Regions from separate parts of the Homo sapiens genome. Here regions 2, 3 and 4 are each reported to be linked to region 1. The links are microRNA targets in miRTarBase. Many come from high-throughput screens and were not tested one by one. Region 1 holds a microRNA gene; each other region holds the end of a gene's coding sequence.
What was found. The annotated mature microRNA hsa-miR-6778-5p reads AGUGGGAGGACAGGAGGCAGGU and lies in region 1 at 4,392-4,413, shown strand. An mRNA with a match to its seed (bases 2 to 7 or 8) in the 3' UTR can be bound and repressed. Matches are read on the target gene's strand: a 7mer-m8 pairs with bases 2 to 8, a 7mer-A1 pairs with bases 2 to 7 and ends in A, and an 8mer does both.

Region 1 (6,111 bases):
AAAAAAAAAGAAAGAATCTGCGTCCCGCACCCAGTTCCCTCCAGCCACCCCCGTCTTTGATGTACATTGTGCAGGCTGCAGTCCTGTGGGTGCAGTGAGGGGACCCACCTCAGGATGGGCATGGAGAGGTGGGGCCTGGGACCCTGGCCAGCTTGGGCAGCAGGAGGTGCAGCTCACCCGCTGTGGGGGTGATTTGAGTCCTGCCCTTGGCGGACAGGAGGAGGAGACAGACCTTATTGGCATTCATCAGCAGCCAGAGGCAGCTCACCTCCACCCCACCGGGCTGCAGAGTTGGAGGTTAGGGGGTGTCCCAGGGCCACTGCCCTGCCCAGCCTTCACCAGACCGCCTGCCTCCACCTTCAGCCCCTGCCCCACTCCACTGCAAGAGCCCCACGCAGGGCCAGGCTAGAGCAACAGCAACATTAACCTTCTATTTTGTGTTTTTGGCCCATCCCCACTGTGACTCGAGAATTCCTCCCTGTCCCTGGTCCTAAGTGACTGCTGGGGTCTCCTTCCTTATCCTCTGTGCACTGTGGACCCCATCTGCAGTTTATTATAAATGCCTATGAATTCTTCTAGGAGTTGTTCTCTTGTCTCATTTTCAAGATTAAAAAAAGAAAAGAAAAACCTTTGAAAAACCCATTAAATTAAAAAGGGAGAAAGCAGCACAGGCTTTTTTTTTTTTTTTTTTTTTTCCGGTAATTGTGGCTACACAAAAAATTTTAGAATTATGTCCATTTTTTTTAAATCTTTTTTTTTTTCCTTTTTGTGGAGAACAAGATCTCACTATGTTGCCCAGGCGGGTCTCAAACTCCTGGACTCAAGCTATCCTACTGCCTCTGTCTCCCTAAGAGCTGGGATTACAGGCGTGAGCCACCATGCCCGGTGAATTACGTCCATTTTTACTGGAGGTCAGCTGTTGATATTTCATTTCATAAAACGGTTTCTTTGCCAAATTCAGGTGACTGAGAAAGAACCACACCCCTGAAGCAAAACACAGCAAACAAAACCACAAATCATCTTTCAGCTTGACTTTCTAGATGAGGTCTTGGTTCCCGAAACCTTGTGGCAAGCTTCTATAGTTGGGTTGGATTATAACTGCCTTTTTTTATTTGGAAAGAGTGACCACCAATCCTGAAACCTTTCACTCCAGATGTGCTGGTAGTTTCTGAGGGGGACACCAAGGTAAGAGGAAGGAAGGTTGGGTCAGGGCCTTCAGAACAGGGAGCCTCTCTGCACATCTCCTCTTCCCTGAGGCTTCTCAGATCCCAGAGCCCAGTTTTTCCTGTGGTGCGCTCTATGCTCTGCTGGTTATGTGTGCTTACCCATGACTTTTTTTTTTTTTTTTTTTTTAAGACAGTATCTGGCTCTGCCTCCCAGGCTGGAGTGCAGTGGCTCTGTCTCGGCTCACTGCAACCTCTGCCTCCTGGGCTCAAGCGATCTTTCCTCTTCAGCCTCCCAAGTAGCTGGGACTAGAGGCGCATGCCACCATGCCTGGCTAATTTTTGTATTTTTTGTGGAGACAAGGTTTTGCCATGTTGCCCAGGCTGGTCTTGAACTCCTGGGCTCAAGTGATCTGTCCAACTCAGCCTCCCAAAGTGCTGGTATTACAGGCATGAGCCACCGCATCCGGCTGACCCCTTTTTTTTTTTTTTTTTTTTTTTGAGACAAAGTTTCCCTCTTGTCGCCCAGGCTGGAGTGCAGTGGCACGATCTCAGCTTACTGCAACCTCTGCCTCCCGGGTTTAAGCGATTCTCCTCCCTCAGCTTCCTGAATCGCTAGGACTGCAGGTGTGTACCACCATGCCTGGCTAATTTTGTGTTTTTAGTAGAGGTGGGGTTTCACCATGTTGGCTAGGCTGGTCTCAAACTCCTGACCTCAGGTGATCTGACCCCCTCGGCCTCCCAAAGTGCTGAGATTACAGATGTGAGCCACCACGCCTGGCTGACCCATATGTTTATAGAAGTTTAATAAAATGAACTTCCTAAGAGATGTGTTGCCAGAAAAGAAAAATTATTTTAAATTTTACATCGAGATCTACAATCTGTTTGGAATTGACTTTTTTTTTTAAACAAATTATATATAATTATGGGATGCACAGTGATGTTATGATTTGTATATACAGTGTGGAACTATTGAATCAAGTTAACTAACATATCCCACTCCTTAAATATTTATTATTTTTCTTCCTGTCTAACTGCAACTTTGTACCCTTTGCTCAGTATCTCTCCATTGTCTGCCACCCTCCAGTGACTGGTAACCACATTCTACCCTGCTTCTGTGAGTTTGATTGTTTTATTTATTTATTTATTTATTCAATTTTAATTTTTTTTTTTTGAGACAGAGTCTCACTTTGTCGCCCAGGCTGGAGTGCAGTGGCACCATCTTGACTCACTGCAACCTCCGCCTCCTGGGTTCAAGTGATTCTCCTGCCTCAGCCTCCCGAATAGCTGGGATTACAGGCATACGCCACCACGCCTGGCTAATTTGTGAATGTTTAGTAGAGACGGGGTTTCACCATGTTGGCCAGGCTGGTCTCAAACTCCTGTCCTCAGGTGGTCCACCTGCCTCGGCCTCCCAAAGTGCTGGAACTGCAGGCATAAGCCACCACGCCCAGCAGTTCGATTGTTTTAGATTTCACATAGAAGTAAGATCACATGGCCAGGTGCGGTGGCTCACACCTATAATCTCAGCACTTTGGGAGGTCGAGGTAGGAGGCTCACTTGAGTCCAGGAGTTCGAGACCAGCCTGGGCAACATGGTGAAACCCCATCTCTACAAAAATATAAGAATTAGCCGGGTGTGGTGGCACTGCCTGTGGTCCCAGCTATTCAGCAGGCTGAGTGGGAGAATCGCTTGAGCCTGGGAGGTAGAGGTTGCAATGAGCCGAGATGGCACCACCGCACTCCAGCCTGGGTGACAGAGTGAGACTCTGTCTCAAAAAAGAAGTGAGATCATGCAGTATTTGTCTGTCTGAGCCTGGCGTATTTCACTTAGCATAAGGTCCTCCAAGTTCATCGGTGTTGTTGCAAATGACAGAATTTCTTTTTTCAGACTGATTATTATTACATTGTTTATATATATATGTGTCACATTTCCTTTGTCCATTCATCTGTTGATGGACATGGCTTTATTCCATAACTTGGCTATTGTGAATAGTGCTGCAGTGAACATGGGAGTGCACATGTCTCTTTGACATACTGATTTCAAGTTCTTAAGATATAGATTCACAAGTGGGATTGCTGAATATGGAATTGATTTGTGTGGGTGAGGCGGGCATCCAGATAACATTTTTGTCCAAATGGATGCCCAGTTGACCTAGTGCCATTGATTGAAAAGGTCATCCTCTCCCCACTGCACTGCAGCGTCACCACTGGCATGGATCCAATGACCTGTGTTGTGTGTGGTTCTGCTTCTGGTTAAGCCAGATGCTCTGCCCTTCCATGAATGCGTGCTGCCTTAATTACTATAATTTGTCAAGCATTTTGTGACACAAAATACACAACGCAATGATGTTTTGTGTAAAGGTTTGGTATGATTTTCCTTTTATGGTTTTTGTTATTTACATTTCATTTTCTATCTTTCTTGCTTTTATATACTTTTTGGCTTTTTTTTTTTTTTTTTTTCAGATGGAGTCTCGCTCTGTTGCCCAGGCTGGAGTGCTGGAGTGCAGTGGCACAATCTCGGCTCACTGCAAGCTCCACCTCCCGGGTTCACGCCATTCTCCTGCCTCAGCCTCCCAAGTAGCTGGGATTACAGGCGCCCGCCACCATATCTGGCTAATTTTTTGCATTTTTAGTAGAGACGGGGTTTCACCGTGTTAGCCAGGATGGTCTCGATCTCCTGACCTCATGATCTGCCCGTCTCAGCCTCCCAAAGTGCTGGGATTACAGGTGTGAGCCACCGCGCCCAGCCCCTACTTCTTGTTTTTCAATGTTGTATCCAGTGACCTTGCTAAATTTGCTTATTCTAACAGTTGGCCCCTAGCATCTTGATTTTCTAGGTATATTGTGTTGTCTGTGTGTAATGTCAGTTTTTAAATTTCTTCTTTCCTAATCGTTATGCCTTTTGTTTCTTTTTCTTGCCTCATTATACTTGGAATAGAAGTAGTATTAGCAGGCATTTTGGTCTTGTTCCTGAAGGTAACCATTTTGGTTTCCATTGTGTGGTCCCGTCACATTTGTTTCATTCTGCAGGTGCTTTTTGGTTCCTTCTCAGCAGGTAGTGCCCCAGCAGCAGGGCTCACTACAACCCTGGGACTCCTCAGGGACTCCTGGGTCTGTGAGCCATACTTGGTTGAGCAGGCTGAACACACCAGTATCCATCCTGTCTCACCCTCAAGTCCTCATCTAGGACATCATTCCTCTTGTCATGGTGGGTGGAGCCAGTTCAAGTGGGAGGACAGGAGGCAGGTGTGGTTGGAGGAAGCAGCCTGAACCTGCCTCCCTGACATTCCACAGGTGAACCCAGATACTGGCTACATCAACTATGACCAGCTGGAGGAGAACGCACGCCTCTTCCACCCGAAGCTGATCATCGCAGGTGATGCGCGGGGCGGAAAGTCACCTTGTTCACCAGTAGCCTGGTGCCTCTTACAGAATGAGGATGGAAAGATGTTCGCACCCTGTTGAGCCCACTGCTAGTTTCTGCCCTGGATAACTGAGTTTCTGGGGTCTACATATATTAGTTTCTTTCAGGATACAGATGTGTGTTTGCTGCTTTTTGTGCTATGTAGATTAAGATGTGAGACTGTTCTCAGAGAAGCATCTAGAAATGTCAGGCCCTGACTGCGCTGGCAATAGTAGTTGGGGCCATCTCAACCACCAAGACGTTGAAGAGTTAGAGTGGTTGCCTTTAGCACAGAGGTGCTTTTTGAGGGCATTCTCCATTTTTGCTCTGAGACTTTAAGGGAAGAAATCTCTGGGCTTTCAGATCTGCACATCTAGAGGCCACTGTGAAGCCAACTCAGCTGGCCGGTGGACATCTCTGATGCAGCTGTGTCACCTTTCCTGTCTCAGGAACCAGCTGCTACTCCCGAAACCTGGAATATGCCCGGCTACGGAAGATTGCAGATGAGAACGGGGCGTATCTCATGGCGGACATGGCTCACATCAGCGGGCTGGTGGCGGCTGGCGTGGTGCCCTCCCCATTTGAACACTGCCATGTGGTGACCACCACCACTCACAAGACCCTGCGAGGCTGCCGAGCTGGCATGATCTTCTACAGGAAAGGTGAGCTCCCGAATGTTGGGTACAGATGGGTACCATGGTTTACATTTCTCCTGTGGGGGTTCAGATTCAGTTGAGGGAGCTGGGAAAAACTCTGACCTGGGATCCTTGGAAAATATTAAGATCCCAGTCCCTTAAAGAGCTGCTTAGGAAGGAGCAGTGACAGGCTTTACAGAAAGGATTCCCGGCCAGGTGAGGTGGCTCGCGCCTGTAATCCCAGCACTTTGGGAGGCCGAAGCGGGCAGATCACGAGGTCAGGAGATCAAGACCATCCTGGCTAACACGGTGAAACCCCGTCTCTACTAAAAACACGAAAAATTAGCCGAGTGTGGTGGTGGGCACCTGTAGTCCCAGCTACTCAGGAGGCGAAGGCAGGAGAATGGCGTGAGCCTGGGAGGTGGAGCTTGCAGTGAGCTGAGATTGTGCCACTGTACTCCAGCCTGGGCGACAGAGCGAGATGCCGTCTCAAAAAAAAAAAAAGAAAGAAAGAAAGGAATCCCCAGAAGGAGACTGTCAGCCACAGCTCCTGCTTCACTTTTGTGCATCCAGGTCCTAGGAACATAGGAGGGGGATCAGCAACCACTATGTGTTAGGATGGCGCCGGTTGCTGAACTCGAGAGGCAGGTGTTTGAATGAAAGGAGGGTGCATGGCTGGCTGGGGGCCACTGGGAGGCCTCACAAGGCTGCATTATTCTGGTGAACTTACAGTGATCCATCATGTTTCTCAAAGAGAAAGACTCATAGTAGTCAAACTAGAAGACATGGATGTATAAACATTAATATCATTTTAGTGAAGGTTTTTCTTTCCATTACCTCATAACCTACCCCTAGGCACTCCCCTTATTTTCGAATTCCCATACCTGGGAAAGCCTGTTAGTGGTCAG
Region 2 (6,111 bases), not on the chromosome of region 1:
TGGATTATTTGAGGTCAGGAGTTCAAGACAAGTCTGGCCAACATGGTGAAACCCCACCTCTTTATTAAAAATACAAAAATTAGCTGGGTGTGGTGGTGCATGCCTGTAGTCCCAGCTACTTAGGAGGCTGAGGCAGGAGAATCGCTTGAACCCGGGAGGTGGAGGTTGCAATGAGCCGAGATCATCACACTACACTCCAGCCTGGGCGATAGAGCAAGACTCCGTCTCAAAAAAAAAAAAAAAAAAAAAAAAACTTACAAAAGACAAAAAAGAGCAGAGAATCAAGTGGTATCTGGCAAAAGAAGTGGGTCAAAAGAAGGTTTTCTTTTTCTTTAAGATGAGAAAGATCCAGTAGAGGGGAAAATTGGAGTTACAGAGGAGGGATGGGGGCCAGGGTAATGCCTGGTATGTGCTAGTGCTCGAGGAAGGGGCTTGGCTTCAGCCAGGAGCATGGAGGGTTCATCACTAACAACTAAGAAGGCACAGCAGGTGGGTGCAGATGCTGGGGAGGGGGCAGAGGTGGTGAAAGGAGTCTGTGGAAATTCTGTTCAGCTGTTTTCAACCTTCTCAGTGATGGAAGAAGTATCAACTGAGAGTGAGGGAGATTTGACACACACAGAGAAGGCAATGTGAAGATGGAGAAGTAAAAGATATGGAGATGCTGGCCTCGAAGACTGGAGTGATGGAGCCACATGCCAAGGAATGCCAGCAGCTACCAGAAGCTGGGAGAGGTAAGGAGCGAAGGCCCTCCTGGCACCTTCATTTCAGGGCAGTGATACTGAGTTTTGATTTCTGGTCTCCAGAACTGTGAGATAATACTTTTCTCTTTTAAAGCCACTAAGTTTGTGGTAATTTGTTACAACAGCCACAATGAAACTAATATAGAACTAGAGGAGAAAGAACTGACTTAGAAGACCCACTGCCTTGTTCACTACCATATACCTAGCACCCAGACCAATGCCTAGCATATGGTAGTGCCCAATAAATATTTGTGGAAAGAATGAATGGGCAGGAAGACAGGCCTGAGTGGTCCACCATATCACCTCTCTCCCCAGTCTGCAGTCTAGCCTTCTCTGCCTCCAGCCCAGAGGGCATAAGAAGCATCCTCCAGCACCCAGGCTTACATGTTTCAGCTAGAGTTGCCCAAAGAGCTACCAAGAGAGGGTTTTGGCTTGTACTCCCTGGAAAACGGAGCCTGAGAGATTCAGCTTGGTCAAGTACCCGCCCTATTTAATCAACAAAAATGAAATCACATTGTGCCAAAGACTGTAACCCTAAGGATGGGGGAAGAGGGCAGTTTCTATGAAAAGGAATGTCAGGCAGATAATCCAATAGGTGTCCTGGACAAAGAGCACTGTTTCTGGGCTCCTCACCACACTCCTACATTAGCTTTAGTCCTCCAGCTACTTTGAAGTGCACATTAGTGTCCCATTCACAGGCAAGGCAGCTCAAGACTAAGGCAGGTCATTTGCCCAAAGGCATACAAAGGTCGGTAGTAGGGCTAAAATCCAGATCTGCCCAGTATCAAGAGGTAGTGCCTCTAAATGCTGTGCTAGCCTGCCTTCATCCTCCAGCTCCATGCAGGAAGGAGACACCCCACGGCCACCAGTGGGCTCCTCCTTACTTCAGATCTGGTTAGCACCAAGGTCATGCTCTGTAAGACGTGGATGTTCTGGGCAAAACACCAACAACTCACAATGTTCTCAGCAAAACTTCAGGAATACTGGAGTAAAAGGAACTAAGACAGATACGTGTTTCTCTTCTTTATTAATCAGTCGAGAGATACAAAGACTTAATAAAAAGTTACACAGAAGGTTCAAACATCACTGAGATCTTCAGGCATCACTCGTTTCACGACAATGGCCACCTGTTAAGACTATGAAACAGAAGCTGGGCGCTCACAGGCGCACAATAATTCAAGTATCTTTCATTCCAAGTAAACCCGACATGGAATTTCAAACACAATGGGCTGCCAATGGAGGGAACCTGTCTGTGGCTCCAGATTTGCTGTAACATGTCTGAGGGGCCTTTGGGTTAAAGTTGCCACGTTAGTGGGTCATGTCTCCTGGAAAAGTGAGACAGGCCCCACGAGGCCAGCCAGGCATTTTCCACAGCAAGTGCCATGAGAAGGAGGTGGGCAAAGTCCTAAGAGAAACCATCCAGGTGTCCCGAGTGGCAAAGTGCACAGGTAGTAAGTGGCCATTGTCCCCAGCCGTGGGAGTGGAGAGGATGGCTAGGATTATCTCTGGAAAAAAAAGAGCAGCCCTCTAAGGAGGGTGTCAAACAGTGGAAGAAATCTGAGAGCACACAATGGCAAAGGCATGGGGTGAGGGCATTTCAGGAAGGCTGTGCTCCAGGGGATGTGAGGGTAGCACTATTCTCCGGAAGACCAACGGGAACATGAGGATGTCAAACAGCCAGAAGTCCCAGTTGGCTCCTCGGTCATGGTGTGGCGTGGCCAACCAGGTTTCCCAGTCTGACCCTGCTAGATGATAATGGAGGAGAAGATGGAGGGATGTCACGGGGCACACTCTACACTCTACTCTGGCCTATCTGGAAGCTACCTCAGTCATGAGGGCCCACTTCTACAAATGGGGCATTATTTACCCATTTCATTTATGGGGAAATGAGTTCATGGGAGATGAAAGCTTACCAGAGGCTCAACAGCAGAGGATACAGAAGACCAACCCTTAACTAGTCTCTCTCAGGCACCATGGAGTTCAACGTGGGCCAAGTGCAGGATGGATGAACAGATGCACTGTCCCTTCTGTCCCAACTGTGTGGTTGAAATCCCTATGTCTTCTCACCTTTATGGCCGAGGTCTCTGTTCTACATCAGCTGATCTGCTTCCAGTGAGACTATCAAACTCAGTGCTGTCGAGGAGTTGCAGCTCCACGGTGGGCATGGGGTATGCTCGTAGTGGTTGGTGCCCAGCAGGAGTTTTCTGGCTGTGGACACTGCCCTGTGTGCAGGGCTTCTTCTCCTACTCCGCCATGCTCTTGATTCTGAGCATCTCCATCCTTACTCCTTCCTACCTGCCTTTCCTCCGCCTCACCTCCAGTTTGCAGCTGCCATCAAACTGCACACAACAAACTGCTGCAGATACCACTTAGGGAAGCATAAGGATTGGGAAGAGCTTTGTCCTTTTAGTGTTTAAAATACCTCTTAACACTATAGGGTCTAAGGAAACTTTGAAGTGCCTCACCTGGAATGTTCTCTCTTATCCTTCCTTTTAGGAACAGAAAAAGGGGCAATTTAGACAAATAAGAAGTTTGATTTCCAACAAGCAAAAGTCTCAACTGTCTCCTTTTGTAGCAGAATCATTCTCCAGCTGGGCCCCTCAGTGCTGGTGATCTTGCCGAGGTAGGAACACAGCACATTTTCAGAACCCGGGTGTCTTGGCATCCAGTTGGGTGCTCACTTTCCTTGGGTTTCTTTCTCCAGAGTGGCCAGGCCACCTGCTGAGGATATTCTAGTTTGCATAGTGACCTGATTTGTAACATCTAGAAAATAAGGTCACCAGCTGTGCTGCCTTTTATTCTGACCTTTTCTTTGGTGCAGCGTTGTTCCTGTTGTCTCTCCACTCCCACCCCAGCTGGAAAAACTCCAGTCTTTGGCTCACACCAGCAGCACCTGAGGTGGGGGGGCGGGGGTGAGCATCATCAGGGAGCTGGGGAGACTGCCCCCTTGCAGAAGGTATATGAGAGCCACACATCAGCCCAGCCTTCCTTACTTCTCAGATCATTTTATAGTCAAGATTCAACAGGTCAATAAAAATTGCCAAAAAGGCAACCTAGTACTACTTTTACAAATACTGGAAGGGGTCTGCTCATTGACTAGGCTTATAGAGGTGGTAGTCAGTTGACTCCAAGGGAAGATGGCTTCAGGTCTTGGTGCTGTTTTAGTGATAACAGTATTGAATCATTTTTGGTTAAGATCCAGCATGAACTGGAGTTTTCTGGATGGTGTCCACATTAGGTTACTTTGACGTGTCAGTGTATTCGTATCAGAGAGGCACCAAGCAGCACAGCTGATGTGAAAACGCAGCAAGAGACAGATCTGAGAAACCCAGAGCCTCCTCAGACCCCTGGGGAGGGCAGAGAACTTAACCCATACTGTCTGAAAAACAAATGAACATGTTTGCAAAGCCAATCAGCTTACTTTAGTTTATACATTTCCAGGATAATGAAAACCCCTTTTAGAACTGACATGCTCATGACAGCCACTCCCCTCAGCAAAATACAATCTGTTTTCTAATATTTGCATCCCCAACCATAGGAAAATCCTCTGGGTAAATACCTCTCTCTTCTCTCATTTCTAGGCCATGTGTAGGGTCTCTTTCCCTCCCAGGTTTGACCCATGGCCTGAGGCCTCCAGCTACAGTTCCCATTACCTTCTGTCCTCTCAGACACTCTACTTTCAGATTGAGTTGAGTTTTGGCACTGATGGGAAAACTCGGTTAAAAAACAACAACAATATTCCAGATATGTTACCAGAGAGGTCTGCTGAACACTTGAAACTTCACCAGGCAGTGAGCCCAGACCCCTTTAATAAAATAATAATCACTAAAATAATTTAAAAATCTATAAAAGACATCCAAGCTCAGACATTGTGGATGGGGGGTAAGGGAAAGAAGCTTGTTCATGGCTTGTTTTGTACTTTGTATGTGGATAAACACTTCCACATCAAACCAACACTATGTAGTTACAATAAACAACACACCCACCGAGAGAGGGGGAGGAACCGGGTTGAATCAACACATGGGGGGGCCAGGGGCACTTGGATGCTGCTTCTGCTTACAGGTGGCTTCCTTGTCTCTTTGAGAGGTGGGAAAGCCCGTGCCCTCTGGGCAAAGCCAGACCCTGTCTGCTCCCTGCCCACCTGCCCTTCTCCCTTCCTGTACCAAGTCCTTGGGCCAAGGGTTGTGGTTAGAAATGGTTTCAGTGCAGTTAGGTGGGGAGGGGTCCCGAGGGCTGGCCAGGCCACCGTCACTGTGCCCAGGGCCTCAGGCCTGTCACAAGATCACACATTGCAGTTTGTGGGTGCCTGTGGCCCGGTCTCCCCGCCATTTGGTTTTCTTCTTCTTCTTCTGGCTTTTTTCCGGAATCTGTTGCCTTTTGAAACAATGAAGGACAGAAAGACAAAGTCAGAATGGGCTTTGCTTCTCCTCTGCCCCTCTCCTCCCTAGCCCCAGATCTGAGTCAGAGGAGGCCTGTTCTGGCGGGGTTAGTGGGTGAGGGGGATGGGGATGCCATCCCTCTCCCAGTGGCTGTCCTGGCCGCTGGAGGAGGGCCTGGCAGGATAGCTTCTCTTGAGGCAATGCAATGGGGGAGATGGGGGAGGGGATAACCTAAATCGCCCTACTGATGGGAATGACTGACATTATGTTGTAGCTACATTTACATAAATCATAAGCTACATCACGTTTTGTCTTATAGAGTGCTGGCCTCTATTCCTGTGTTTCATAGTTTAAATAAAATGATGGGTCAACTGAGCGTAAAAGCCATTTCATGTTTTCTGTTAACTTTTCCTATGTCTAAAACCTGACCTTGGCACTATAGGTTCACAACCAAGGCATCACCATAGGCTACCTGATGGCAGCACATCCTAATTGGAGGCAAAATGCCCAAGAGCAAATAGTTTCTTTCTTTCTTTTGTAAAGATGGCATTTCACTATGTTGCCCAGGCTGGTCTTGAACTCCTAGCCTCAAGCAATCCTCTTGCCTCCACCTCCACCTTTGCCTCTGAGTGCTGGGATTACAGGAATGAGCCACTACGCCTGGATGAGAAAATCATTTTGAGAGTGCAAAACTGCCAGCAAAAACATAAAGTGAAGAATGTAATATTTCCTCATTACGCTGGGGAATAATGAGAAGATGAGCTTTTTGAGCATGTGGGGGCATGTGTGTATAGTGGGGGTTAGAGCCCCGGGGCTGATCTCACAGCTCACCAGCAGCCCTTGGAGGTGCCAGCATATAGGCCACAAACTCAACGCACAATGTCTGAGACCCGCTGGTTAGGCTGCTGTGCATGTTAAAGATTTGGGAAATGGGATAGCTTGGTGACAGCGGATGCAGCCAGGAGGCTGTTTTAGTCATGAGTGCATGAGGT
Region 3 (6,111 bases), not on the chromosome of region 1:
CTCCTGCCTCAGCCTCCTGAGTAGCTGGGATTACAGGCATGCGCTACCACGCTGGGCTAATTTTGTATTTTTAATAGAGACGGGGTTTCTCCATGTTGGTCAGGCTGGTCTCTAACTCCCTACCTCAGGTGATCCGCGCCCCCACCCACCACCACCCTTCGGCCTCCCAAAGTGCTGGGATTACAGGCGTGAGCCACCGCGCCCGGCCACAACTTTCTTTTTTCTAAATTAGAGACAGGGTCTCGCTCTATCGCTCAGGCTGGAGTCGGTGGGGCTATCATAGGTCACTGTGACCTCGAACTCCTGGGCACAAGCTATCTTCCCGCCTCGGGCCTCCCAAAGTGCTGGGATTACAGGCGTGAGCCACCGCGCCCGGCCATCCCCCATTTCAGCTAGGGAAACAAGCCGAGCTGGGGCTAGGCTTTGTAACTTTATTACACTTTTTTTTTTTAACATTACACTTTTTTTTTAATGTTACACATTTTTGTTACTTGTTTTGTCAGCCTTCCCCACCACAGTCCTTGGAGGATCCAACTTTGTCTTTTTAAATATTGCAGCCCCAGTGGTTAGAATAAGGCCTGGCACGGTAGGCATATATAGATACTTGTTAATACTTGTTCAATGGATGAGGGAAGCCAAGTTCAGATCTCTTCCTGTGCCGTCAGAGAAATATTTGCCGTGGACAACTTCAGAAGTTAACAGATTGGAGTCCACTTTTCCCACGCCAAGCCTGTGCCTCAGTCAGCATGACTTCTCTGATTCCAAAATGGCACTCTTGACATTTCTTAGTTGCTTCCGTTTTTCTTTTTGAGACAGAGTCTCACTCTCTCGCTCTGTCGCCCAGGCTGCAGTCCAGTGGCGCCATCTCGGCTCACTGCAAGCTCCGCCTCCCGGGTTCACGCCATTCTCTTGCCTCTGCCTCCTGAATAGCTGGGACTACAGGCGCCCGCCACCAGGCCCGGCTAATTTTTTTGTATTTTTTAGTGGAGACGGGGTTTCACCGTGTTAGCCAGGATGGTCTCGATCTCCTGACCTCATGATCCACCTGCCTCAGCCTCCCAAAGTGCTGTACCACAGGCGTGTACCACCGTGCCCGGCCTCTTTTTTTTTTTTTTTTTTTTTTTTTGAGACGGAGTCTTGCTTTTTCACCCCGACTGGAGTGCAGTGGCACAATCTCGGCTCACTGCAACCTCCGCCTCCCAGGTTCAAGCGATTCTCCTGCCTCAGCCTCCCAAGTAGCTGGGATTACAGGCATGTGCCACGACGCCTGGCTAATTTTTGTATTTTCATTTATTTATTTTTTTAAGACAGAGCCTTCCTTGCTCTTGTCGCCCAGGCGGGAGTGCAGTGGAGCGATTTTGGCAAACCGCAACCTCCGCCTCCTGGGTTCAAGCAATTCTCCTGCCTCAGCCACCTGAGTAGCTGGGATTACAAGCACCCGTCACCACGCCCAGCTAATTTTTGCATTTTTAATAGAGACGGGGTTTCACCATTTTGGTCAGGCTGGTCTCGAACTCCTGACCTCAGGTGATCCACTCTCCTCGGCCTCGGAAAGTGCTGGGATTACCAGCTTGAGCCACCGTGCCTGGCTTCTTAGTTGCTTTCTATTAAGTTTTGTGCCTTTTTTAAGAGGAGGAAACTGGCTCAGAGGGGTTAAATAACTTGTTCATTGCTTGTATAACAGTGGATTGGGGATGTTACACTGAAATTTGAATCCGGGGCTAGGTGTGGTGGCTCAAGCATGTAATCCCAGCACTTTGGGAGGCCGAGGCGAATCACTTAAGCCCAGGAGTTCAAGACCAGGCTGGGCAACAGAGTGAGACCCAGTCTATAAACAAAAAGAATAAGAAACTTGGGCTGGGCGCGGTGGCTGACGCCTGTAATCCCAGCACTTTGGGAGGCTGAGGCGGGCGGATCACGAGATCAGGAGATCGAGACCATCCTGGCTAACATAGTGAAACCCCGTCTCTACTAAAAATACAAAAAAATAGCTGGGCGTGGTGGCGGGCGCCTGTAGTCCCAGCTACTTGGGAGGCTGAGGCAGGAGAATGGCGTGAACCCAGGAGGCAGAGCGTGCAGCGAGCCAAGATTGCGTCACTGGACTCCAGCCTGGGCAACAGAGCGAGACTCTGTCTCAAAAAAAAAAAAGAAAGAAATTTGAACCTGGCTGTGTGTGGTGGCTCACACCTGTAATCCCAGCACTTTGGGCAGCCGAGGCAGGTGGATCACCTGAGGTCAGGAATTCAAGATCAGCCTGACCAACATGGTGAAACCCTGTCTATCCTAAAAAATAAAAAATAATAATAATTAGGTTTGGTGATGCGCTTGTAGTCCCAGCTACCTGGGAGGCTGAGGCAGGAGAATCGCTTGAACCCAGGAGGCGGGGGTTGCAGTGAGCCGAAATTGTGACACCGCACTCCAGCTTGGACAACAGAGTGAAATGCTGTCTCAAAAAAAAAGAAATTTGAACTCAGAAAGTTGTGTCCTCAGGTGTAGTTTTTTTTTCTATCAATTACTCTTTCGGGAACTCAGATTATCATAAAATTAAGAGGTCCAGGCCAGGCATGGTGGCTCACGCCTGTAATCTTAGCACTTTGGGAGGCCAAGGCAGGCGGATTACCTGAGATTGGGGGTTCAAGACCAGCCTGGCCAACATGGTGAAACCCCGTCTCTACTAAAAATACAAAAAATTAGCCGGGTGCAGTAGCGTGCACCTGTAATCCCAGCTACTCTGGAGAGGCTGAGGCAGGATAATCGGTTTGAACCCGGGAGGCAGAGGTTGCAGTGAGCCCAGATCGTGCCACTGCCCTCCGGCCTGGGCTACAGAGCGAGACTTCGTCTCAAAATAAATAAATAAATAAAAGTCCAAATCCCCCAAACTGGTATATGACGTTCTCTGCTTCTCTAGTCTTTTTTATTTTTTTTTTTTTGAGACGGAGTCTCGCTCTGTTGCCCAGGATGGAGTGTGGTGGCACAATCTTGGCTCAGCGCAACCTCCACCTCCTAGATTCAAGCGACTCTTCTTGCCTCAGTCTCCCGAGTAGCTGGGACTACAGGCGCGCGCCACCATGCCCAGCTAATTTTTGTATTATTAGTGGAGACGGGGGTTTCACCACATTGGCTAGGCTGGTCTTGAACTCCTGACCTCGTGATCCGCCGGACTTAGCCTCCCAAAGTGCTAGGATTACAGTTGTGAGCCACCGTGCCCGGCTGAAACTATTGATCTTTAAACAATCTCTCCAGTCTCTGAGACTCTGCACATGTTCCCTTTTGGAATGCCCCCTTTGCCATCTTCTACCGACCTTCAATTTTTATTTGCTTTACTTCAGTGTTTGTTTCCCAGAGTTGAATGAGCTAGGCAGACAAATTAATCCAAAGTTTAGAGGGATAATAGTGATTGGTTTTGTTTTAGATGTAAGCAATAAAAGCAAAATAAGCAGAAAAGGGAAGGACCAAGTTTTATTTTTATTTTTTGGGACGGAGTCTGGCTCTGTTGCCTAGGCTGGAGTGCAGTGGCACAATCTCGGCTCACCATTACCTCTGCCTCCTGGGTTCAAGCAATTCTCCTGCCTCCGCCTCCCAAGTAGTTGAAACTACAGGTGTGCGCCACTATGCCCGGCTAATTTTTGTATTTTTAGTAGACACAAGGTTTCACTATGTTGTCCAGGCTGGTCTCAAACTCCTGACCTCATGATCCGCCCACCTTGGTCTCCCAAAATGATGGGATTATAGGCGTCAGCCACCGCACCCGGCCTAGGACCAAGTTTTTATACTCCTAGAAGGTTCTAGGTAACTCCGTTCTACCTGAATCACTGCAGAGATTCTCTAGGTCCAGAGAGCTGATGTAGTTACTGTACACCCCAGCCTGGGTCATTGGGGAAAGGCTCAAAGTAATGGCATGGCACGCTCATTCTAGCTTCATGGAAAGCAGCAGCTACAGAGACACAGTTCTTCACCTGGAGCCTGAGCTCTACAGCTTAACTTCTGTATCTGCATTACCAAGGGGGTATTGGAAACAATTCAAGGTTTTTATGGGATTCCACAGCCCAAAGGAGACTAAGAAGCCCTCTCTAATTCCATCTCCTGTTAAAATGGGAAAACAGGCCAGGCGCAGTCACGCCTATCATCCCAGCACTTTGGGAGGCTGAGGCAGGCGGATTACCTGAGGTCAGGAGTTCGAGACCAGCCTGGCCAACATGGCGAAACCTCGTCTCTACTAAAAATAAAAAATTAGCCGGGTGTGGTGGCTTGCGCCTGTAATCCCAGCTACTGTGGAGGCTGAGGCAGGAGAATCACTTGAACCCGGGAGGGGGAGGTTGCAGTGAGCAGAGACCGTGCCATTGCACTCCATCCTGGGCAACAAGAGCGAAACTGTCTCAAAAAGAAAAAAAAAAAAAGATGGGAAAACAGAAAACTCAATAGTGTAGATTAAGGAGATAAGCATTGGCTGGGCGCAGTGGCTCACGCCTATCATCTCAGCACTATGGGAGGCTGAGGTGGAGGAACCATGTGAGGTCAGGAGTTGGAGACTAGCCTGGCCAATGTGATGAAACTCCACCTCTACTAAAAAACACAAAGATTAGCCAGGCGATAGTGGCGTGAGCCTGTAATCCCAGCTACTTGGGAGGCTGAGGCAGGACAATCGCTTGAGCCCAGGAGGCAGAGGTTGCAGTGAGCCAAGATCGTGCCACTGTACTCCAGTCTGGGTGACAGAGTGAGATTGTCTCAAAAAAAAAAAAAAAAGAGATATGCATTGATAATCCTTTCCACCAAGAAACAGTTCAATCTTGGGCAAAAGAGCCTTAGGTATAAATTAAAAATAACAGCATCTACTCATATAAAACACCCATTATGTTGCCTGGCTCATGTCACTCATGAGCTAGTTAGTGGGTTTTTGTCACAGGGGTCTTCTGCCCCCCTTGAGTTCTGGACCTAAAAGTGCTGAGGCTGAAGCCTCCTAAGACATGAGCAGTTACAACCATACTCCCCAACTGTTAGCCCTATCTTATGCTGTTAGGTGAAGGGGCAGAGCCTGCAGTGGCTGGAAGAAAATGTCACAAGCTCTCAGCCTTTCTTGAAGCCCTGGCCAAGTATAAAACAGAGCAGGAAGGTCCTTCCACCTTTCACTCCTTTTCTGCCCAGAAAAAACAGAGAACAGGGGCTCTTTCTTCTTCTGGGCTCTGCTACCTCCCCAGGCCCTCCCCTGCATTAGACACCACAAGACACGGACGGCCGACTCCCCCTTAAATAGCTGTTTATTTGGCAGTGTGCCGGAAAGGGTGATGGACTTAGCATTCACAGACGACACCACACACCACTGTCACGAGGGAAGAAAGAGCGCGGGCAAGCCAGCCTGGAGCCCCGAGGAGGCGGCCTCCTCTTCAAGAGTGGGAGGGGGCAGGGCCTGGAGTGTTGGGGGCAGCCTGGGAACACCTCCGCTTAATAGGCGTGGTTAGAGACGAAGAGGGACTCGCTGGCAGCAGCCCCAGCCTGACCGCTCGGAGTGTACTTTCCTTGACAGGCAAGGCTGTTGGCCTAAGCAGGGAGAGGGGTGGAGTGAGAAGGGCTCTTCTCCGAGTCCCATCCACCCAGGCACCCTGCCCACCTCCTGCCTATCCTTACCAGGGCTCGCTTGACATACTCCTCCTGCGCAGCCTTCAGGTTCTCCTTCTTCCCGCCCCAGGCCTTCAGGGCAGAGGCCTGCAGGGCTCGGCCGTAGGAGAAGGTCAGGGCCCAGGGCTTCAGCAGGGGGCACTTGTTAATGGCATTGAGGTTGATGGACGCCTCCTCCTCACTCTGGCCTCCAGACAGGAAGGTGATCCCTGTAGAGCAGGGGTGAGGCGAGAGGGGCTGTGGTCAGAGACCCAGGAAGCTGGCAGGAGCTGGTGGAAGTTGCCATGGAAATCCGTCCAAATGGGCATAGGGTTGTGGGTGGAGCTTATCTACTGCATAGAGATCAAGATGAGTGTGGGCCTCACCAGTGACAGCGGGGGGCACTGTGCGGCGCAGCGCTGTGACGGTCGCCATGGCAATCTCCTCATGAGAAAACTTCTGAGTGCAAGCATGGCCTGGGGTGACCATGTTGGGCTTCAGCAAGGTGCCTTCCAGGTA
Region 4 (6,111 bases), not on the chromosome of region 1:
AAAGAAAAAAAAAAAAAGCCCTGTTTCTTAAAGTGGGAGAAGGGACTTTCTTAGAGCCTACTGTAGTACTGTAATAACCTTCAGTTTATTGTGGGTCTCTCTTGCTCACTTGCTATTGGTAGTGTGCACACCCCTTCCAGTTCCAGCCACTGCTCTCAAGCTGGCTTGCAGCCTTCAAGTACCTGCTGGCTATCTGGAGCTCCCAGACCAATCAGATGCCCCATTGCTTCCCTTTGCTTTCTTCTGCGCGAGATGCTGAGGGGTAATATAAAGCAGAAACAGTAGTAAATGAAGTATACTTCGAGGGTATTACTCTTTGTTAGAAGGTGCCAAGGTTGGGCTAAATGGTCACACAACCACTCCAGACTCTTCCTGCTGTCTCTGCCACCTGTTCATTACCCCAGGCCCTCCTGAGAACTGTGATAAGGTGAAGTGAACACAGGAGGGACAGTGGTGTTGGCCTGGTTTCAAAATCCGACTCCAGCACCAACTGGCTGTGCAACCTTAAGCAAATGACTTAATCTGAGGCCGTTTCTTCTTGGGTACTAATTCACAAGGACGTTGAAGACCTAACCCAAAGTACCTAGAGCAGTGCCAAAAAAGCACCTAGCAGGCTCACCAGAAATACACCGCGCCCCCATTCACACACTACCTTTGCCTTCAACCCTGCATTTCCCTCTGCCATTTTAGCCCGGTCTTATTGAAACCCTGATTAACACGACTTCCCATGTGACCTCTAGAACCCTTGTTTCTCCTATTCAAATCCATCTAAACTTGCTTTCCACAAACACACTGCTCTCGCCACTCTCGAGTTTACCATGACTCCCCAGGGCCTGTCATTGTCTAGTCTCTGTGGTCTCTTCTTACAATGACCTCCCCATCTGCCCTAGCCAGTGAATCGACATTTCGAAGAACCAATTAATGTCCCTCCTCCCCCCAAAAGCAATCCCATTCTCACCAACTGAACTTGATATATTAATACAGCAATTAAAATCCAGATTACAATTATTTGGCTCTTGTATATGCTTAACTTGATGAATTACTTTTGTTTTCTAAACTAGACCATCGATTTAAGGGGGGAGACCATATCCTATTTCCCTACACCAATCTTGTTTGTTTTTTTTTTTTTTTTTTTTTTTTTTGAGACAGAGTCTTGTTCTGTCACCCAGGCTGGAGTGCAGTGGCATGATTTCGGCTCACTGCAACCTCTGCCTCCCGGATTCAAGCGATTCTCCTGCCTCAGCCTCCCAAGTAGTTGGGATTACAGGCATGTGTCACCATGCCCGGCTAATTTTTGTATTTTTAGTAGAGACAGGGTTTCACCATGTTGGCCAGGCTGGTCTCGAAGTCCTGACCTCAGGTGATCCACCCGCCTTGGCCTTCCAAAGTGTTGGGATTATAGGCGTGAGCCACTGCACCCAGCAAAGGCAGAATTGTAGGTCCCAACAAAACAAGTATGTTGGGGGGAAGGAATAGAACATTAAAAACACTCCATGTGATTCTTAAAATCACTGCATCTGAGAAAAACTCTACATATACTTTCAGCAGAGACAATCTTGTCAACAAATATTTATCTTTATTATTGACTAATAAAGCCTGAATATAGGATCAAACATTTCTTTTCCCTACACATAAAGACAAGGCTGTTGCTATGTATAACAAAAGCAGGAAATACTGTTTTTTGTTTTTTTTTTTTTGAGAAGGAGTCTTGCTCTATAGCCCAGGCTGGAGTGCTGTGGTGCGATCTCGGCTCACTGCAACCTCTGCCTCCTGGGTTCAAGTGATTCTCCTGCCTCAGCCTCCCAAGTAGCTGGGATTACAGGTATGCGCCACCACGCCCGGCTTTTAGTATTTTTAGTAGAGACGGGGTTTCATCATGTTGGCCAGGCTGGTCTTGAACTCCTGACCTCAGGTGATCCACCCGCCTCGGCCTCCCAAAGTGCTGGGATTACAGGCGTGAGCCACAGCGCCCAGCCAATACTTTTTTTTTTTTTTTTTTTTTTTTGAGACGGAGTCTTGCTCTGTCGCCCAGGCTGGAGTGCAGTGGCGCTATCTCGGCTCACTGCAGCCTCCTCCTCCTCCTCCCGGGTTCACGCCATTCTCCTGCCTCAGCCTCCCGAGTAGCTGGGACTACAGGCGCCCGCCACCACGCCCGGCTAATTTTTTTGTATTTTTAATAGAGACGGGGTTTTACCACGTTAGCCAGGATGGTCTCCATCTCCTGACTTCGTGATCCGTCCGCCTTGACCTCCCAAAGTGCTGGGATTACAGGCATGAGCCACCGCACCTGGCCAATACTTTGTTTCTTAGTAAGAGGCCAGCTGCTGCTAAAACAAGGATTTACCCTCCAGTATGAGGAGCCCAGCTTGGTCCCCCTGAGGAATCAGGTGACCTCAGCTGTAGTGGCCTTAGGCACATCCAACTAGTGTAAGCCAGGTGTGATTAGGATCGTGGCATCTCCTATTTTGGCACAAGGATGATTCCGCTTTAGGATCCCAGAGATAATTCTATTTTTTAATGTAGTTTCTCAGCAAAGACAGTTCTTGAAATTGCCTTTCCAGTTTTCCATAGGTTGACAGTGATTTCCCATTTTTGTCAACTCTTTGAGTTTGCGATTCCACATTTTTTTCAGAAGTAATCTTCCAATTCCATAAATAAATGAAAACCAAACCACACAGCTGGAAATCAAGTTTTGTTTTTATATGAACAGAAGTAGACCATCTAGAAATATTTCAGTTTATTTAAATTGTTAAGTAGAATATGAAACCGAATTTGTAGCTAGTACCAGAGAATGGACTTAACTGTTTGGTGTTTAATGAGAACAGCTTCTACACAGGATCCCAAGAGACTTACAGAAAAGGGGCAAAGCCCTAATATTAAGCAAATAAAACTCATGTTTCAAACAGATTATACAAAAATTGATTTATACTTCATTTCCCTTTTTTGATATTTAGAAAGTGCAGATTTAACAAAAGGTAGCCATATCCTTTCTATGTACAATGCCGATTATAATTATGCAAAACTGTCAGTCTGTTATCCAAAAATCCCAGTGTTTAGCTCTCCAACCTTAAGTCATGGAATTGAATAAGAATTAAAGAGGGTTAAAATAAAAAAGCTAATGCCACATTCCAGATAAAGGGAAGCAACAAATACATTAATCTAACAACAGTAGGTTTAACCTAAACTTTTCAAAAAGCTTAACATCATTTCATTATATTTTTAGTGGAAAATTAGGGATTATTTGGCAATGCTGCTTTTTACTAGTAGTAAACAATGATAAAGTCAAGTGTGGGAATAACCTAAGAATAACAACCAGTGAGGCATATAAAATTGTTTTTAGGGCACTATCTGAAAAATTTGTGGATTTTCATAGCAGATACGTCCCTATGTTGTTTGCTTATGTGAGCCAAGAGGTCATTAAAATGCTATTCACGACACAGAAAGACTTCTCAATGGAAGCTGCTGTCCTAAACTCAGCCTCTGCTAGAAATGAATCATGCTATTCACAATTCTTTCAACAAAGGTATCATCTTAGGATGCTAGCAGCATAGCAAACTTCACTTACCCTATCCTAATGATAAGCAATGAAGCAAAACTAGAAAAAATGCAGTGAAAAAAGGACAGGGTTAGAGATAGCTAAAGATCTTATCTTTACATGAAAAGCCTTTCGTTGTCCTTTTTCCAAACCCATGGTAATACAAGTTTTCCAAAAGGATGTAAAGACAGGACTTAAAATTAATAATATTCTAAAGTATTTCTGAATCTTAAGGTAAAGAAACTTAACACTGAAAAAGTGTTCTTCAGAGGCCAAATCTCAATACATTTGGCAAACATGTTAATAAAATTCACTCCTCCTTCCTGCTTTTCCTTTTTTAAAAAAACAACCTGTACTAGGCTACCAAGCTGCTAGAGGAGTTGCCAAAATGCAGACTACTCAAATTTAGGTTAAGAGATTTATTCTAGGAAAGTGAATAGGCTATACACCTAATTAGAAAGACAAACCACAACACCCTCCAAACACTAGTGCATGCAGTTAACTCTTCCATTTCATAAACTCAATGGATAGACAGGAAGGGAACAAAGAGAGGAGGAAAAGCAGAACATAGAAGTAAAACAGCAAATGAAGGCATCTGGGACACATTTTAGGGAAGAGAGCAAATGAGGGGGGAAGACACCAATTAACTGACATTGGATAGTAGGCAGTTAGAACTTATCTTTCCGTTTACCTAGCAAGTTACATCAGTGCTTTATATTAAACTTGACAAACCTACTAGTTTGTCCCTTTCACTCTTAAATATACCATGAGGTGGTTGGGGAGGGAGAAGCAAATAAAGCAGCATGCAGGGAGACGCAAGGAAGAAGTGGCCAAGGAGAAGAAATGGTGGCAGGAATAGTTTTAAATATCAAGGCCACTTAAAACAAGACTCAGCAAACCAAAGCTATCACTTCTGCATTACCCTTTGTCCTCAATTAACTACTTTGAAAATTACAGCCAAGCAAACCACAAACATTTTAATGGTTTATGTTTGGATGATATGTCTCCTGCACATGCTTCCACCAGAACAAAAAAGGAAAACCAAAGAAGTTCCTTTCCACATAAGGCACAGGACAAAATTAATCCCATTTACATATTCAAGGCGAAAATGAGTGTTTTCCTGGCTTTTGTTTGTTTCTTTTGCTATCACATGTCTATAGATTATAGGGACTCAAGCACATTATCCATGACAGAAAATTCCACTGTTGTACAAAATAAAATTGTTAATTCTAACTTTATTCTTATACAATTTGCAGAATAGATTTGAAATGATTGCTATAGGTTTTAATGTTGATAAGAACTGGACTATAATACAACTGAAATGCAGTTGAGCTGAGCAAGTACATTTAAAAATGAACTCACAGACATGATTTTTCTATACATTTTTTTGTTTGAAGAAAATTATGATAAAGTCAGCAAGCAGTCACAGATGAAAGAACAAATAAAATAGGTGGCTTGGATAGTTAAGATGAGAAACAAAAATATCTGTTTAGAGTTAAAAATGGACAGAGTGGTTTATTTTGCAGCAAGAAGAGAAAACGGGGTAGTGGATGGCAACTGATGGAACAGGAGAATGCTCAGCAGCATTTGCTCTTCCAGCCTGTCACGCCTCCTCCACTGCTGATATCTACATTTTCACTGTTGGGCTCTTTTACAGGGGTCTGCAACAAACACACAAGGAAAATAACTCATGAAAAAACACTGCCATGGATAAAATCACGATTCAACAGGAATATTCTTATGTCAATTTATACAACAAAATACAACTACAATCACAGGAGATAGGTTTCCCCTCCGTGCAAAGTAAAGATTTGGAAGCTTTGTTTTGATTTTCTTTTTGCCTGCTTCCTCCAAGCTGTGAAATATTGTAGACATTTCCTGGCATGCCTTTATAAAGCTTCTGAAATCTTCTCAGCTCTAACTCTTAAATAGATTTTGTTATCTTCTAGCCCTGACCTCTGAATATGTTTAGTACTTAAAAGGCATTGTGGAGCAAGTTGTATGAAACCAGTGTTAGGTATATGTAACGTCACAGAAATAAAACTGCCCTTTTCTGTTATCTGCCTTTTTAGACCAATTTTATTACTGTATCATAGTTTTAAAAAGGCAACCTCAACTGATTAAGTGAAAAGGAGTGGAGCAAAATGTAGTTATCTAATTCATGTTAAAAATGGATATAGATGGCTGAGCACAGTGCCTCACGCCTGTAATCCCAGCACTTTCAGAGGCCAAGGTGAGAGGATCACTTGAGGCCAGGAGCTAAAACCACGTTGGGCAACACAGCAAGACCCCCATCTGTATAAAAAATTTAAAATATTAGCTGGACACAGTGGCTCAAGCCTGTAGTCCCAGCTACTCAGGAGGCTGAGGCAAGAGGATCACTTGAGCCCAGGAGTTCAAGGCTGCAGTGGGCTATGATCACTCCACTGCACTCCAGCCTGTGCAACAGACCAAGAGAGTAAGACTCCTCCCAACTCCTCTAAAAACACCGAAAAACCCCAAAGGAGATACAACAAAATACTAACAGTAGCAACCCTTAGGTGGTAAAATTATGGTTGATTTAATTTTATTCTTAG

Region 2: miRTarBase lists MRAS as a target of hsa-miR-6778-5p. Seed matches in the 3' UTR shown: 7mer-m8 at 2,215-2,221.
Region 3: the mRNA of ALDOA is a reported target of hsa-miR-6778-5p. Seed matches in the 3' UTR shown: 7mer-m8 at 5,388-5,394.
Region 4: miRTarBase lists RAB10 as a target of hsa-miR-6778-5p. Seed matches in the 3' UTR shown: 7mer-A1 at 3,288-3,294.

The regions. Positions count from the first base shown.
Region 1 is chr17:18,339,162-18,345,272 of GRCh38, reverse strand. MIR6778 (microRNA 6778) reads left to right here and starts at 4,387; the gene lies at 4,387-4,459. SHMT1 (serine hydroxymethyltransferase 1) reads left to right here. Exons shown (of 12, transcript NM_004169.5): 6 at 4,460-4,541; 7 at 5,018-5,230.
Region 2 is chr3:138,401,173-138,407,283 of GRCh38, reverse strand. It overlaps MRAS (muscle RAS oncogene homolog), which reads right to left. Exons shown (of 6, transcript NM_001085049.3): 6 at 1,751-5,114. The coding sequence ends at 5,015. Among named protein-coding and RNA genes, the nearest start is that of ESYT3, 30 kb to the left of the region's middle.
Region 3 is chr16:30,069,541-30,075,651 of GRCh38, reverse strand. ALDOA (aldolase, fructose-bisphosphate A) reads right to left here. Exons shown (of 10, transcript NM_001243177.4): 8 at 5,979-6,111; 9 at 5,623-5,822; 10 at 5,238-5,535. The coding sequence ends at 5,440. LOC112694756 (uncharaterized LOC112694756) reads right to left here. Exons shown (of 14, transcript NM_001365304.2): 12 at 5,979-6,111; 13 at 5,623-5,822; 14 at 5,238-5,535. Among named protein-coding and RNA genes, the nearest start is that of PPP4C, 3.4 kb to the left of the region's middle. RefSeq lists an enhancer at 757-936.
Region 4 is chr2:26,134,023-26,140,133 of GRCh38, reverse strand. RAB10 (RAB10, member RAS oncogene family) reads right to left here. Exons shown (of 6, transcript NM_016131.5): 6 at 2,680-5,196. The coding sequence ends at 5,113. It also overlaps the pseudogene EMP2P1. Among named protein-coding and RNA genes, the nearest start is that of GAREM2, 36 kb to the left of the region's middle.